4 linked regions of the Homo sapiens genome follow. The protein of the gene in region 3 purifies or fractionates together with the protein of the main gene of each other region. This does not show direct contact. Each region holds a gene or a part of one and is shown on either strand. Other genes may lie near its edges.

Evidence for each region.
Region 1: the proteins of TESMIN (region 3) and MAPK8IP3 purify together in Homo sapiens (affinity purification with mass spectrometry; one large-scale study listed by BioGRID and IntAct). This does not show direct contact.
Region 2: the proteins of TESMIN (region 3) and KLHL15 purify together in Homo sapiens (affinity purification with mass spectrometry; one large-scale study listed by BioGRID and IntAct). This does not show direct contact.
Region 4: the proteins of TESMIN (region 3) and TRAPPC6B purify together in Homo sapiens (affinity purification with mass spectrometry; one large-scale study listed by BioGRID and IntAct). This does not show direct contact.

The regions. Positions count from the first base shown.
Region 1 is NC_000016.10:1,761,695-1,765,194, reverse strand, and holds part of MAPK8IP3 (C-Jun-amino-terminal kinase-interacting protein 3), read right to left. Parts: intron 2,845-3,500; coding exon 2,714-2,844; intron 2,521-2,713; coding exon 2,464-2,520; intron 2,360-2,463; coding exon 2,189-2,359; intron 1,539-2,188; coding exon 1,412-1,538; intron 1,081-1,411; coding exon 985-1,080; intron 895-984; coding exon 736-894; intron 183-735; coding exon 17-182; intron 1-16.
Region 2 is NC_000023.11:24,017,187-24,020,686, forward strand, and holds part of KLHL15 (kelch-like protein 15), read right to left. Parts: intron 1-3,500. UniProt on the Homo sapiens protein: Substrate-specific adapter for CUL3 E3 ubiquitin-protein ligase complex.
Region 3 is NC_000011.10:68,745,021-68,748,520, forward strand, and holds part of TESMIN (tesmin), read right to left. Parts: intron 2,347-3,500; coding exon 2,188-2,346; intron 92-2,187; coding exon 1-91.
Region 4 is NC_000014.9:39,153,334-39,156,833, forward strand, and holds part of TRAPPC6B (trafficking protein particle complex subunit 6B), read right to left. Parts: intron 962-3,500; coding exon 878-961; intron 1-877. UniProt on the Homo sapiens protein: Component of a transport protein particle (TRAPP) complex that may function in specific stages of inter-organelle traffic.

The sequences.
Region 1 (3,500 bases), on a different chromosome or scaffold from region 3:
CACTCCAGCTGCTCACCGGGGATGCTGGAGATGCACAGCACGTGCGCGTTGCAGACGGTGAACTGGTCCACCACCGTGCCCGGCTGGTTGGCGTCGATGATCACCACCTTGCTGGTGGTCAGGGTGCTGGTCAGGATCCACACCCGGCTGGAGGTGGCGTCCATTTCAGGGAGCTCCTTGGCCTGTTTCAGGGCACGGGATCAAGGTCAGAGCCCGAGCTTGAGGCTACCCGGTGGCAGCACAGGGCCATGGGGCTCCCAGAATCTGTCAGGATCCAGCCTTGACTACAGCTTGAGGGGACATGGCTGTCCTCCCCCAGGACCAGAACAATGCGGACTCAGGACTGCACTCTAAAGCACTCACAGACACGGTTTCGCCTCCACAGAAGAGGCCCCTGAGCTCCAAGAGGCCCAAGCTGGGCATAAAACTAAGCCTCCCACCACTGGGAGGCAAGCTCTGCCGCTCCTGGGCTCCTCTGTGCCTGCTGCCTGCCTGACCCCTGCAGCCCAGTGCAGGCCCACTCCAGGCCACCTGGGGGGTGAAAACTGAAAACCCAGAAGGCGGCTCAGTCCTGGTGAGGGAAGACACTGCTTCCCGCAGTCTAGGAGCCCCTGCGCTGCCCTGCTTCCGGGTGCTGTCCCCAGCTGTCCTGTGTCTCACTCCCAGCATGCTCTGCAGCTGAGCTGTCCTGAGACTAAGCCAGGGAGGGTGCCCGGTGGCCTCGGCCATGCTCACCTTCTTCTTCTCGGGAGACGTGTGGGCGCTCTTGGGCTCGCCGTCTCCTTCGCGGTCGCAGGTCAGGGGATCGCGGCCTGGCGCTGGCTTGACTCCATTCCCAGCGTCGTCCTCATTGGGCCTCCACCCGCTCAGGTTGACGCCCGCGGCACACCACAGCTGCAAGGGCAGGGCCGAGGTCGGGTGTCACCGGCACTCCCCAGCCTCCCGCTCGCCCAGCCAGCCTGAGCGGGGTCCTCGCGGGCTCACCTTCATGGTGGGGTCCTTCTCCACCAGAGGGCGGCAGTACACCGGCACCGGCACGTTCTTCATCCGCGTGTCCTCCTGGCCCCCGTTGGGACTCAGCTGCAGGGAGCAGGGAGGCGCCGTGGGCACGAACCCTGGCTCCTACCCATCCCTCCAGAAATCTGAGACAGGTAGGGCTGCCAGCTTCTGGCGGCACAGCCACTTCAAGACTGGAGGCAGGTGGGGGCGTGGGAGCCGCGGGGCTCCTTCTCCGACCCTCCAGACCCCTGCCCAGGAGGCTCACTAGGAACCTGCCAGGCCCCGCCCCACCCGCCGTCCTCTCCCACCCCCTAGCACTGCCCCGCCCTCTCCCCGCCCCACAGCGCCCCGCCCCTTACCCCCGCCCCGCCTCTGCGGGGCCCCGCCCGGTCCCCGCAGCGCCCGCCCGCACCTGCTTGTACTTGGCGGGCAGGCTCCAGCCGCAGGCCTGCAGACGGCCGTCGTCGTTACGCACGTGCTCACGCACCTGGCGGTACTGCTCGCGCTTCTGCTCTCGACGGGCGGAGGACGTGCAGTCGCTGAGTGGAAGAATGATGGGTGATGTCTCTGTCCAGGGTGAGCGGCCCCCACAGTGCCCCAGGCTTGTCCTGGGGGAGGTCACGGCAGGGAGGCCCGCCTGGGCCCATCCTCGCCTTTTCCCGGCCACCGGGTGCCCAGCTGGGAAGGGTGGCTTTCCCGGCACTGGGTGCCCAGCTGGGAAGGGTGGCTTTCCTGGCACCGGCTATGCCCCTGGGCTTGGAGGCCACAGCTGGCCCCTGCTCGACCCAGAGGCTGCTCTGCTGCCACAGTCACTGAGGGTTCCACAGACCGGGACCTGGAGTGCCGCCGGGGCACAGGCATGACCAGCGACTCCCTGCTGGACAGACGCCTGAAACGGCTCCTTGCTGCAGAGGCCACCGTGGAGCCCAGCACAGCCCCCTGACTGTTGGTGGGCACAGCCTCTGCCAAGGGACATCCTGAACCAAATACCGTGGAGCCAAAGCAGCCCAGCTCCCCGCTGCAGGGAGGGGCAGGCAGTGTGCAGGGAGAGGTCACGGCCCCTGGCATGTGGCCAGCAAGGTGGAGGCTGCCCTCAAAGTCCCGCTTCAGGGCCTGGAGGGGAGGAGCCTCAGGACAGGGCCTCCCCAACCCCATTGCAGGCCACAAGTGGGGGCTGCGGGACACTCACTCGTCAGGGAAGAATTCCAGGGGCCGGCTGCCTGCCGAGATCGGGCACATGGCATGGTTGCGGCGCTGGCTGAAGCCGGCAGTGGTGGGTGACTTGTAGTGGATGTTCACCGAGGGATAGGGGCGCTTGGCCGGAGGGGGGCTGGAGGAAGAGCTGAAGAGGCGGCTGAAGCTGCCAGAGGCACAGGGAGGTGAGGGGTGGGCAGAGGACCAGGGAACCTCCCTGCCCCTTCCCCTGCAGCTGCTGCCCACATCCCCCAGGGGCCCCCAGCTTACAACTGCCAGATGGTCGACTTCTTCTTCTCCTGGACGGATGGGTGCTCTCGGGACGCTCTGCAGGGGAGGGCACAGGGAGCAACCTGCTAGTGCCCTCACGCCTCCCTTACCTGCGACTCTCTGGCTCCCGCCAGGAAGCACCCAGCGCACTTCAGTCCCCCCAGAAGACAGGGAGGTGCAGAGGAGGGAGCCGCAGTCCTGCCGTCAGGGATGATCCCGCAGCCCCTCCTGGGGTGGCCGCAACTCCCACCTGATCATCTCAGTCCACCGCACAGCCTCCTGCAGCTCCATCAGCCGCTCCTTGTACTGGTTCCGCTCCATGAGCACACGGGCCATCTCCACCCGCGTGAAGCGGCGGCGCTGGGCCATGGGGATTTTGTCCTGCGGAGGGAGGGGCACAGAGGCTCAGCCAGCCCTCGGAGGCCGGGTGACACCTGCTTCCTCCTGGGGTGCCTACACGTATAGGTGGATCTCAGTGCCAATTTCCTTCAGATCCTCAGGCAAGAAGCGGTGTGGAGGGGTGTCGGCAAGCGGGGAGGGGAACCATACAAAAGGCATGCACCAGGACTTGGGTGCTGACAGGGGACCCGGCATCCTGCCAGGGCTGTGGTCCTGCCCAAGGGCCTGATTCTGACTCCATGTGGTCTCAGGAGTGGGGTGGCAGATGATGCCGCTGGGGTCAGGTGTCACCCAGGAGGGGTGGGAGAGCTGTCAGCCCAGAACAGCCGGCGAGTCCCCAGGAGCCCGCCTGGGCCCCCTGCCCGTGCCCACCCCAGCCCTGCATGTGAATTGTGGGATATACTGATTCTGTACAGAGACAGAAGCGCCGGTGAGTCCCCGGGAGGCACCCCGCATCCCCATGCCCCGAGTGTGAATAGTAGGATATACTGTGTGTGAATGGTGAATGGTGAATGGTGGCCGCCCAGCGTGTGAATGTGTGGGAATGATGGCTGCCCCACGTGTGAATGCGTATGAACAGTGGTCACCCGGCGTGTGAATGTGTGGGAACAGTGGCCGCCCCGCCTGGGAATGGTGAA
Region 2 (3,500 bases), on a different chromosome or scaffold from region 3:
GGGCAACAAACTAAGAGCCTGTCTCAAAAAAAAAAAAAAAAAAATTAGATTCTATTTGCAAAAAATACAAAATAGTGTGGTCGGAAAGAGCAAAACCTCTGAAATCAGAGTGCTTACTGTGTGACCTACAGAAATTTTGTTAACTTCCTATCTTGGTTTCCATCCATACATTACTAATAATCATCATCATCTTATTATCAAGTTAGGGTGGTGAATAAATGAATTAACCTAAGTGAGAACCCTCAGTCTCCCCTCTCTACCAACCCCATGCCTCCCTAGGGTTTATCATAATGCAGATTTATAACAGATCAGAGTCAGGCGCAGTGGCTCACGTCTATAATCCCACCACTTTGGGAGGCCGAGATGGGCATATCGCTTGAGCTCGGGAGTTCGAGGCCAGCATGGGCAACGTGGCAAAACCCCATCTCTACTAAAAACATAAAAATTAGTCAGACGTGGTGGTGTGTGACTGTAGTCCCAGCTACTCAGGAGGCTGAGGTCAGAGGATAAACTGAGCCCGGGAGGCCGAGGCTGCAATGAGCTATAATCCACCACTGAACTTCAGCCTGGGCAACAGAGTGAGACCATGTCCCAAAAAAAAAAAAAAAAAAAAAAAAAAATTGTGTACATAATTCTTTAACTGGTTACAGCGGCCTCATGCCTGTAATCCCAACATTTTGGGAGGCAAGGCACGAGGATCACTTGATCCAGTTCAAGACCAGCCTGGGCAATGTGGCCAGACCTCTTCCCTACAAAAAAATTTTTTTAAATAGCAGAGCTTGGTGGCGTGCTCCTGTGGCCCCAGCTACTTGGGAGGCTGAGGCAGGAAAATCGCTTGCGGTGAGGATGTCGAGGCTGCAGTGAACCACGATGAAGCCACTGCATTCCAGTCTGGGCAACAGAACAAGGCCCTGTCTCTAAAAAGAAATCTAAGTACAGAATTATATCAATTTAAGGAAGAAAACTATTATAAGAACTACTTTGCAATGGCAGAGACAGCCGCGGCAGCAGTAGCGTGCTCAACAAGAAGTGCGTAGCCCCACTCTCCCAAAAGAAAAAAACGAATCATTGTAAAACACAAAAACCTTAAATAAGAACTCTTTAAATGAGTGCTGGAGGAAAAATTTAAGAGGCTTTGAGGAAAAACATTTACTGACAAAATGTTCAATGTACAAAAATTCTGTATCCTTACTTTTCATATATAGGTTTATCAACACTTTATACATGGCCTTCAGAATTTCAAATAGTAGGTTTTTTTTTTTTCAAGAGGGAAACCAATTAGACCAAATGACAAGGCATACTTATACTACCAGGAAAGAAATACTGAAGAACGTGTCTTGTTTCATAAACTTGGTACTGACTAAATAAAAGAAAGCCTCACATTTTTGTGCCTAAGAATGATTAGTATAGGGATTCTCAAAGCATGATCTGGGGACAAGTGAATCCAGTTGTCCTAAAAGATCCCAGTCCCCACTAAAGGGGCTTCCCAATGTCAAAATTATTATCCAAATAATTTTTTTAAAGTTATTGGTCAGCCGGGCACAGTGGCTCACATCCGTGATCCTAGCACCTTGGGAGGTAGAGGTGGGCTGATCACTTGAGCTCAGGAGTTCAAAACCAGCCTGGTCAATATGGTGAAACCCTATCTCTACTAAAAAATACAAAACTTAGCCAGGGGTGATGGCATGTGCGTCTGATTCCAGCTACTCAGGAGGGTGAGGCACGAGAATTGCTTGAACCCAGGAGGCAGAGGTTGCAGTGAGCCAAGATTGCGCCACCTCCAGCCAGGGCGACAGAGCAAGACTCCTTCTCAAAATAAATACATAAATAAAGAATAGTTATTTGTCTTTTTCACTTTCATTCTGTTTTCTAGAGGTTTACACATGGTATGTGATATTGCAACAGACTGAATGCAGAAGCTGATGAGAAGCCCATTGGCTTTTATTAAGCCAGATATTAAAGAGATATGCAAAAATTTAAAACAATGCCACTCTTTTCACCAAGTTCTTAACTGTTTTAGAAAAGTTATTTTTCATAAAAAAATGTTATTTAGGTTACCATGTAATAGAATTAATTTTTATTTGTTTATTTATTTTTTGAGACAGTCTCACTCTGCACCCAGGCTGGAGTACAGTGGCATGATCTCTGCAACCTCTGCTCCGGGGTTCAAGCGATTCTCCTGCCTCAGCCTCCTGAGTAGCTGGGATTACAGGAGCCCACCACCACGCCCAGCTCATTTTTTTATTTTTAGTAGAGACGGAGTTTCACCATGTTGCCCAGGCTGGTCTCGAACTCCTGGCCTCAAGCGATCCACCCGCCTCGGCCTCTCAAAGTGCTGGGATTACAGGTGTGAGCCACCAAGCCCGGCCCCCACTAATTTTTAAGAGTACAAATAAGTACAAAGAAGTCCTGAGACCACAGGCTTGAGAACAACTGAAAGTGTAAGAGATAAGTGACAACACACACACACACACACACACGTGCACGCACAAACCTCAACCTCTTCCTACCTCTGCCCTGGAAGACTATTACTGCTATTTATATCACAGAATTTTTGAACACTTCAAACTCTCTAGTGACCAGTAAAAAAAGAAGTTTGGTGGGGGTAAAACTGGACAGGAAATTAAAGGCAAAGAAATTAAATGCTTCCTTTTCAGTTATAAGGCTGCCATTCTGATGTGAAGGCAAAATTATAGGCAATTAAAAGACATTTCAAAATTAACCTCTATGTTTGTGCCATAAGCAATAATTTATTGCTTTCACATTCCTTCCACAGCTGCTTGAAAATTCATACAAAAGCTTAAGGTATTCAATGCAAAAGCTAGATTCTCAGAGGTTGATATAATATACTTACCCTCAATGAAAAATTTAAATGATTTCATACTATCTTCATCCCCAAACTGTTCTCCTACCAAAATTGATGCCTATGCAGAAAATGCCACAGTTGCATATCGAAAAGAGAATGCAAAGGCTTACTACGGATAAAAACAGAATTAATTTCTGAGTCATAACATTTCTCACTTCTGTAACCCATAAAGTAAAAAAATGTAAATTTGACAATCTCAAAGCAGCCAACTTCTCAACATACCAATATAAAAGAAAAGACAAATTTAAAGACAGACTTTTAAGCTCTATTAGCGGTCACTTTACTCTCAATACACTACTCAAATTGAAAACTCACTTTAATATGGGAGGAGACGTTGTGTAAGTTAACTTTAATTTGTTTAATACTGGAAATTCTTTCTTGTCATCAAAATATTTTTATAACTCAGGACCAAATTGCAAATGACCATTTAACTAAGCTATTAGGAGGGCCCTGGGTCCTCCAGCCTCCAGACTGGCACCAAATTACTTCACTTTTCAGGTATGTTTAGCATTTCGTCATCCTATAATACAAGAAGCCTTATAAGAAAAAAAAAACCCTGCTTGAATGCTATTTTTCATCAGAAGACTTTAATTTAATGCTTCTCTGCTTATTCCACACTATGACTAGAAGTAGT
Region 3 (3,500 bases):
ACTGAGGAACCAAATGGAGTGCTTTTAGTTCTCTTGTTCTAGAATTGTCTATACATAGCATTTGTGTGCCCCCTTTCAATTGGCATATCACCTAAAATGAAAAAGAACAATCAGGTTTCATTTTTGAAACATAATTCCAGTAATAATGAACCTAAATAAACTTAAATCTGAGAAAATAGCTTTAATCCAGAAGTTACATTTTAATGGAAGATAGAAAACTATAGATCTGTTTTCGATTTCTTACTCTACACTAACATGCTCTTTGGAGACACCAAAGGGCAAAAAAAAAAAAAAAAAAAAGAAAAACCCAGAAATGTTTCCTGAGATGCGTCCAGTGTGTGAACAGAAAAAAGTTCCTGTGCCTGGCTTTCTCCACAGGTGTCTGATTTAGTTGGGGATCAGGTAGCCATGCCCCAGAGCTTCCTTTGTCCTGTCCTCACTCCACCATTGACATGAGCAGAAGAGGGTGCTGCTCCGCTAAGCCCCAGCCCATTCAGCCCCAGTGGGCACTGAGGCCCTGGCGGCATGTCCCTGAGTCCCTGGGCACGCACTTAAAATCCTCTCTAATTTTACTCCAACTGTCCTTTCCTGCCACACACATGTCATTATTTAACACATGGGGTTTTAAAAACACATCTATTTTATTTCCTACAAGTACAGCTTAGAAAGGTTAGTCCAAGAACTATAAAGTTCTAAGAAGCCACACTGATCTGCTTGGGCCTGAGCAGCACTGTCAGACCCCCCTTGGATACTGACCATAAATAAATGGTCGCAAGCCGGGTGGGTCTGCCAGTCCATCCCATCAGTCAAGCAAAAGCACTGAGGGAACTGTGTGCCCAGCCCTGCTTCAGGCTGTGGCATGTGGGGATAGAAAGGCGAGAGATGCTGTGGCTTCTGCCTGGACACAGCTTCCAATTCTGCTGGCAGAACCACAACTACACAGAGCAGCTGTGCTTTATACACTTAAGTTGCTTATAATCTAGATAAGAGAACCCAAAGAACCATAAAGGACCAATGTTATCAAAGTAATACACATTGGACCTACTATGGTCATTGGATCAATATTCCACATCATCCTGACATCTGATGAGAGGCCAGCATTCATGTTCAATTGGAGTTGTATTTGTATTTGGAGGATAAAGTTATAGCTACACACACACACACACACACACACAGGAAAGGCTCAGAGTGAACTCTGCAGACCTGCCTCTACTGCACACTCCTGGGCCCTATCCACATGGGAGCCTTGGCTCTGCCCTCTGGGGAAATGTGCTAACATCACTCTGCAGTCTTGGGGAGTCGGAGAGTTCTCATCCTGCTGACCTGCTTTTAGGGTCCTAGAAAAACTGCTATCAGAACCCACAGCCCCAAATAGAACCACCGATGGAGAGGCTAATGTTAGTGTACACCACAGCTAAACCAAACTCATGACAGGCTCATTTTCAAGTATTTGCTTGTTAACGTCTATGCCTTACAGCAAGGGCCTCATTTCTAGGAATAAAGAATTGCTGGGGGAAAGGCAATGATCGGTTCTTGGACTCTGGGTGCTTTGCTAAGGGAATGCTGTGGGCGACACTCTCCCCATTCCTAGTCCTTGCCACGTGAGATCTGGAGTCCCAGATGCACCACTTAATTATGAAGACCAATGTAGATGATGTAACATCTCTGTTTCTTACCCATAAAGTGGGGATAAAAAGAATGCCTATCCTACAGAGTTGTTAGGAGGATTAAATAAAGGTGCAAAAATATGACATAAACCACAGCTGTGACTGATTACGTACCCTATACAAGCGTTACCTGTTATCATGAGAGATTGGGACACGAAGGAAGCAGGCTCTGCCCTGAAGCCACAGGACCGTGCCCCACACCAATATGCCAAACCATGAGGCTCAGCTGCAGTCCCTGACCCCAGCACTGCACTAACTGATGTGATTTGTGCTTGCTCTCCTTAATGAATACAGCAATGTCCTCATCTTTGTTCAATTTGCTAAGATGGAGTAGAAATGAGAATCTTAGAGGTGAGATGTGAAAGGCTCATGTCCCTGTTTTGCTAATGAGACAACCAAAAATCCTGATACAATACATACGTGAAATGAAAAACGAGTGAAATGATCAGTCGACTTAGTAATGATGGGGTCCAGCATTTAGTATAATGTTAGTCCTACACATCTTCTTTAGCATAATTACCATTGGGTTGGAATCTTTCTTAAGAGAACAGCAGGAGGCATCCTCTAGTTCCTGGGACGATGGGAACTTGCAACAGGATTCCTGAGCAAGAAGATTCTGCAAAGTTGCTTCTTCCGGATTATTACTTGTAGTAGTACCACCTGCTTCCTTGATTTCAACCTAGAAAAAAGCAATAATTATTTTAGAGAACACATGGTGGACACTGGCTCTTGCAGTTGCATAATTTAGAAAATTGAAATCTCAGTGATAAGTAGAAGTTATGGTGAAACCCTGTCTCTACTAGGCATGGTGGCACACTCCCAGCTACCGGAGAGGTTGAGGCAGGAGAACTGCTTGAACCTGGGAGGCGGAGGTTGCTGTGAGCTGAGACAGTGCCATTGCATTCCAGCCCAGCCCCATCACACATTCTTCCAGCATGCTCAGTAGTTTGAATTAGATGTTCTAGTCAATTGTTTTTTCCTCAAAAAGCCCCAAATCCTTGGTAACGTTTTAATATTATTTATGATGTGTTTATAGGAAGATTTGTAATTAGGTAGTAGCCCTTTCCTGCCTTAATAGTAGGACAACAAACATGAAATGGTGGAGAGTAGGGAGTGGCTGCCAGCTTTGTGTTCAAGCTGTCTTCTGTAACAACTGTCAACCCGATGACAAAATTACCAAAGATATGGAGAAATACAGGGATAATACTGAAAATCAATAGAATTTTTAAAAGTAAGAATCCTCGTGGTTAAAAAAAAATTACAATCAGGATTGTTTCAACATTGGGATGCTGCTTTTTACAATCTGTAGGAATGTGAGGAGGACTGGGAAACCCACGCTTTGCATCCTCCCCTCCCCTCCTCCTCCACCTACACTTGCCCGAGCTGCCTGGACCAGAGGACAGTGGGGCTCCCCAAAGGCCAGGAGGCAGGCCACAGAGCCCTTCCAAAAAGATGGTGGCTCTAAGGTAACATACTGAAGACCTCAAATAAAAATCACAGAGCAGGTATCTTTCAAAATGCAGATAGTGACTCAAATTGGAGCTTGTCCAGCCCAATAAAATCAGAGGCCCAAACAAATCATATTTCCCATGTATGGGCAAATCACTCAGCACAGCAGACTAGCATCTAGGTATAAATCTTAAAAGAGATAAAGTTTAGCTATATTTTAAGTAGCTTTATTTAGAAATTTTAAATTTCATATAAATACACATAAAATTTTCTTCTACTTGCTGCTTTGGGGGATGTGCTATGCACGTCATCCCAGTTTAGATTTAACTTATCTCCCTGTAATCAACAAATACTACTATAATAAATATATCATTTCCTCAGACC
Region 4 (3,500 bases), on a different chromosome or scaffold from region 3:
AATAGGCAATCAGGCCGGATGCAGTGGCTCACACCTGTAATCCCAACACACTGGGAGGCCGAGGTGAGGTGATCACTTGAGCCCAGGAGTTCAAGACGAGCCTGGGCAACATCGTGGGATCCCATCTCTAAAAAATTTTTTTAAAAATTAGCCAGGCATGGTGGCCCACACCTGCAGTCCTACCTCCTTGGGTGACTGAAGTGGGAGGATCACTTGAGCCCGGGGGGGTCAAGGTCAAGATAGGCCATGATTGTACCACTACACTCCAGCCTAGATGACAGAGCAAGACCTTGTCTTAAAAAAAAAAAAAAAGTGATCTACCATACATCTACATTTCACTGTCATTTAGTTATAGTGTTTCTTTTTTTTCTTTTTTTTTTTTTTTGAGATGGAGTTTTGCTCTTATACCCCAGGCTGGAGTGCAATGATAGCACGATCTCAGCTCACTGCAACTTCTGCCTCCCGGGTTCAAGTGATTCTCCTGCCTCAGCCTCCCGAATAGCTGGGATTGCAGGCGCTCGCCAGAACGTCCAGCTATTTTTCATATTTTTAGTAGAGAAAGGGTTTCCCCATGCTGGCCAAGCTGGTCTTGAACTCTTGACCTCAGGTAATCCACCTGCCTTGGCCTCCCAAAGTGCTGGGATTACAGGCGTGAGCCATAGCGCCCGGCCAGTGTTTCTTTAATTGGTCACTCTATGACTATTTAGCTACAGTTTAGTGTTATTGTAACATGTCTCTCATTTCATAGAAAACTCTTTAAACAAAAAAGAACACCTTAAAACATATTTTTAATTCAATAGTTTGTTATGATTAGCACTGTACTTTTCCCTGTAGTCCTACTATTAACAAAAACCCCAACTTCTATTCCATTAAATACCTTAGATGCATGTTCTAAATACTGTTTTCCTGCAGACATCTGAGTAAGCAGGCGAAATTTGTTGTCCTGAAGTACATAGATGCCCTGTTCCAAAAATAGAAAAAAAATCCAAAGTCAATGTACCTAGCAGTCCTTAAAATTATTTTATTCTTATGAAACAATTTAAGTGTTTTTTAAAGTTATTAAAAGTCTCCTTCCCATTGGCCAAGTTTTCTTTTTCTGTTCTTTGAGACGGGGTCTCCTCTGTCGCCCAGGGTAGAATGCAGTGGCACAATTACGCCTCACTGCAGCCTCCAACTCCCAGACTCAATCAATCCTCCCACCGCAGGCTCCCAAGTAGCTGGGACTACAGGCGTGCATCACCATGCCCTGCTAATTTTTATATTTCTTGTACAGATGGGGTTTCGCCATGTTGCCCAGGCTGGTCTCAAACTCCTGGGCTCAAGCAATCTGCCCACCTTGACCTCCCGAAGTGCTGGGATTACAGGCATAAGCCCACGTGCCCAGCCTGGTCAAATTTTGTTTAAATGAAGGAGTTTTGCAATGTTCAAGCTGAAGAGTTGCGAGTTCAGTATTTTCACAACACTAATGTATACCGAACGGTTTTATACACTGAAGATAAAAACACTGTCTGAGACATAGTCCCTATCCTTAAAAACTCATAGTCTAGTACGATGGAATCATTAATACATGTCCACATGAAATAAGCTGTTTGTTTGTATAGTTATTTATTTAGACATGAGCTCTCACTCTGTTGTCTAGGCTGGAGTGTGGTGGTGCAATCACAGCTCACTGCACCCTCAAACACCTGGGTGTTTAGCAATTCTCTTGCCTCAGCCTTCCGAGTAGCTGGGACCACAGACACATGCCACCACACCCGGCTAGTTTTATTAATTTTTTGTAGAAAGGGGGTCTCCCTATGTTGCCTAGGCTGGTCTGGAACTCCAGGGCTCAAGTAATCCTCCTGCCTCAGCCTCCCAAAGTGCTGAAATTACATGTATGATCACCACACCCGACCTAATTTTTATTTTTATTTATTTATTTTTTTGAGACAGAGTTTCACTCTTGTTGCCCAGGCTGGAGTGCAATGGCTCGATCTCAGCTCACCACAACCTCCGCCTCCTGGGTTCAAGTGATTCTCCTGCCTCAGCCTCCCAAGTAGCTGGGATTACAGGCATGCGCCACTACGCCCAGCTAATTTTGTATTTTTAGTAGAGACGGGGTTTCTCCATGTTGGCAGGGCTGGTCTTGAACTCCCAACCTCAGGTGATCCACCCGCCTTGGCCTCCTGAAGTGCTGGGATTATAGGCGTGAGCCACCGCACCCGGATTTATTTGTTTATTTGAGACAGAGTCTTGCTCTGTCGCCCAGGCTGGAGTGCAGTGGTGTGATCTAGGCTCACTGCAACCTCTGCCTCCCGGGTTCAAGCAATTCTCCTTCCTCAGCCTCCTGAGTGGCTGGGACTATAAGCGTGCGCCAATATGCCTGGCTAATTTTTGTATTTTTAGTAGAGACAGGGTTTCACCACGTTGGCCAGGCTGGTCTCGAACTCCTGACCTCAGGTGATCTGCCCACCTCGGCCTCCCAAAGTGCTGGGATTACAGGGGTGAGCCACCGCGCCCAGCTTTATTTTTTTAAGAGACAGAATTTTGCTGTTATCCAGGCAAAAGTGTAGTATTTCACTGTATCCTTGAACTCCTCCCATGTAGCTGAAACCTCAGGCACATACCAATATGCCTGGTGAAATTTTTTTCAAGTTTTTTGTAGAAATAGGTTCTAAGTATGTTGCTCAGGCTGGTCTCCAACTCCTGAGCTCAAGCAATCCTTCTGCCTCAGCCTCCCAAAATGCTGCAATTCTAAGCATGAGCCACCATGTCCAGCCAGCTGATATATATTAGTAAATCATGTCTAGAGAGTAAAAAAATCATAGTCATTTCTTCCTATTAGCATTTCCAGTAATTCCAAGCTAAAGTTGGTACAAAATGAATTCCAGGCCAGGCACAGTGGCTCACACCTGTAATCCCAGAACTCTGGGAGGCCAAGGCGGGAGGATCCATTGAGCCCAAGAGTTTGAGACCAGTCTGGAAAACATAGTGAGACACTGTCTCTAATTAAAAATAAATAAATAAATGAATTATCCTATTGAGAGTACCAGATACATTTAATTTTTTACTTAATCAAAATTCCAAATCTACTCTAAGTATTTCCTTGAAGTTCATAAAATAAAATCTAATGAAGCTGGGAGTGGTGGTGCATGCCTATAATCCCAGCTATGCAAGAGGCTGAGGCCAAAGAATTACTTGAGTCCAGGAGCTCAAGACTAGTCTGGGCAACAAAGCGAGACTCTGTCTCCCTTTTAAAATTTTAATAAATACATAGTTTTCTATGTAATCTATTAATTTTGTAGTAAGAAAATCTTTTAAGAGTAGAAAATATGACAGCAGTAATAATCCAGGAGTTATTTAAGAGTAAAATGCTCTATAAATTAGACTTTAGAAATGACTATAAAGAATCTCTTCCTGCCACCCAAGATGCCAAAAGGAAAGGCCAAGAGGAAGGAGGTGGCTCTGGCCCTTGGTGTCATGAAGAAACAGGAGGCCAAGAAAGTGGTGAATCCTGGTTG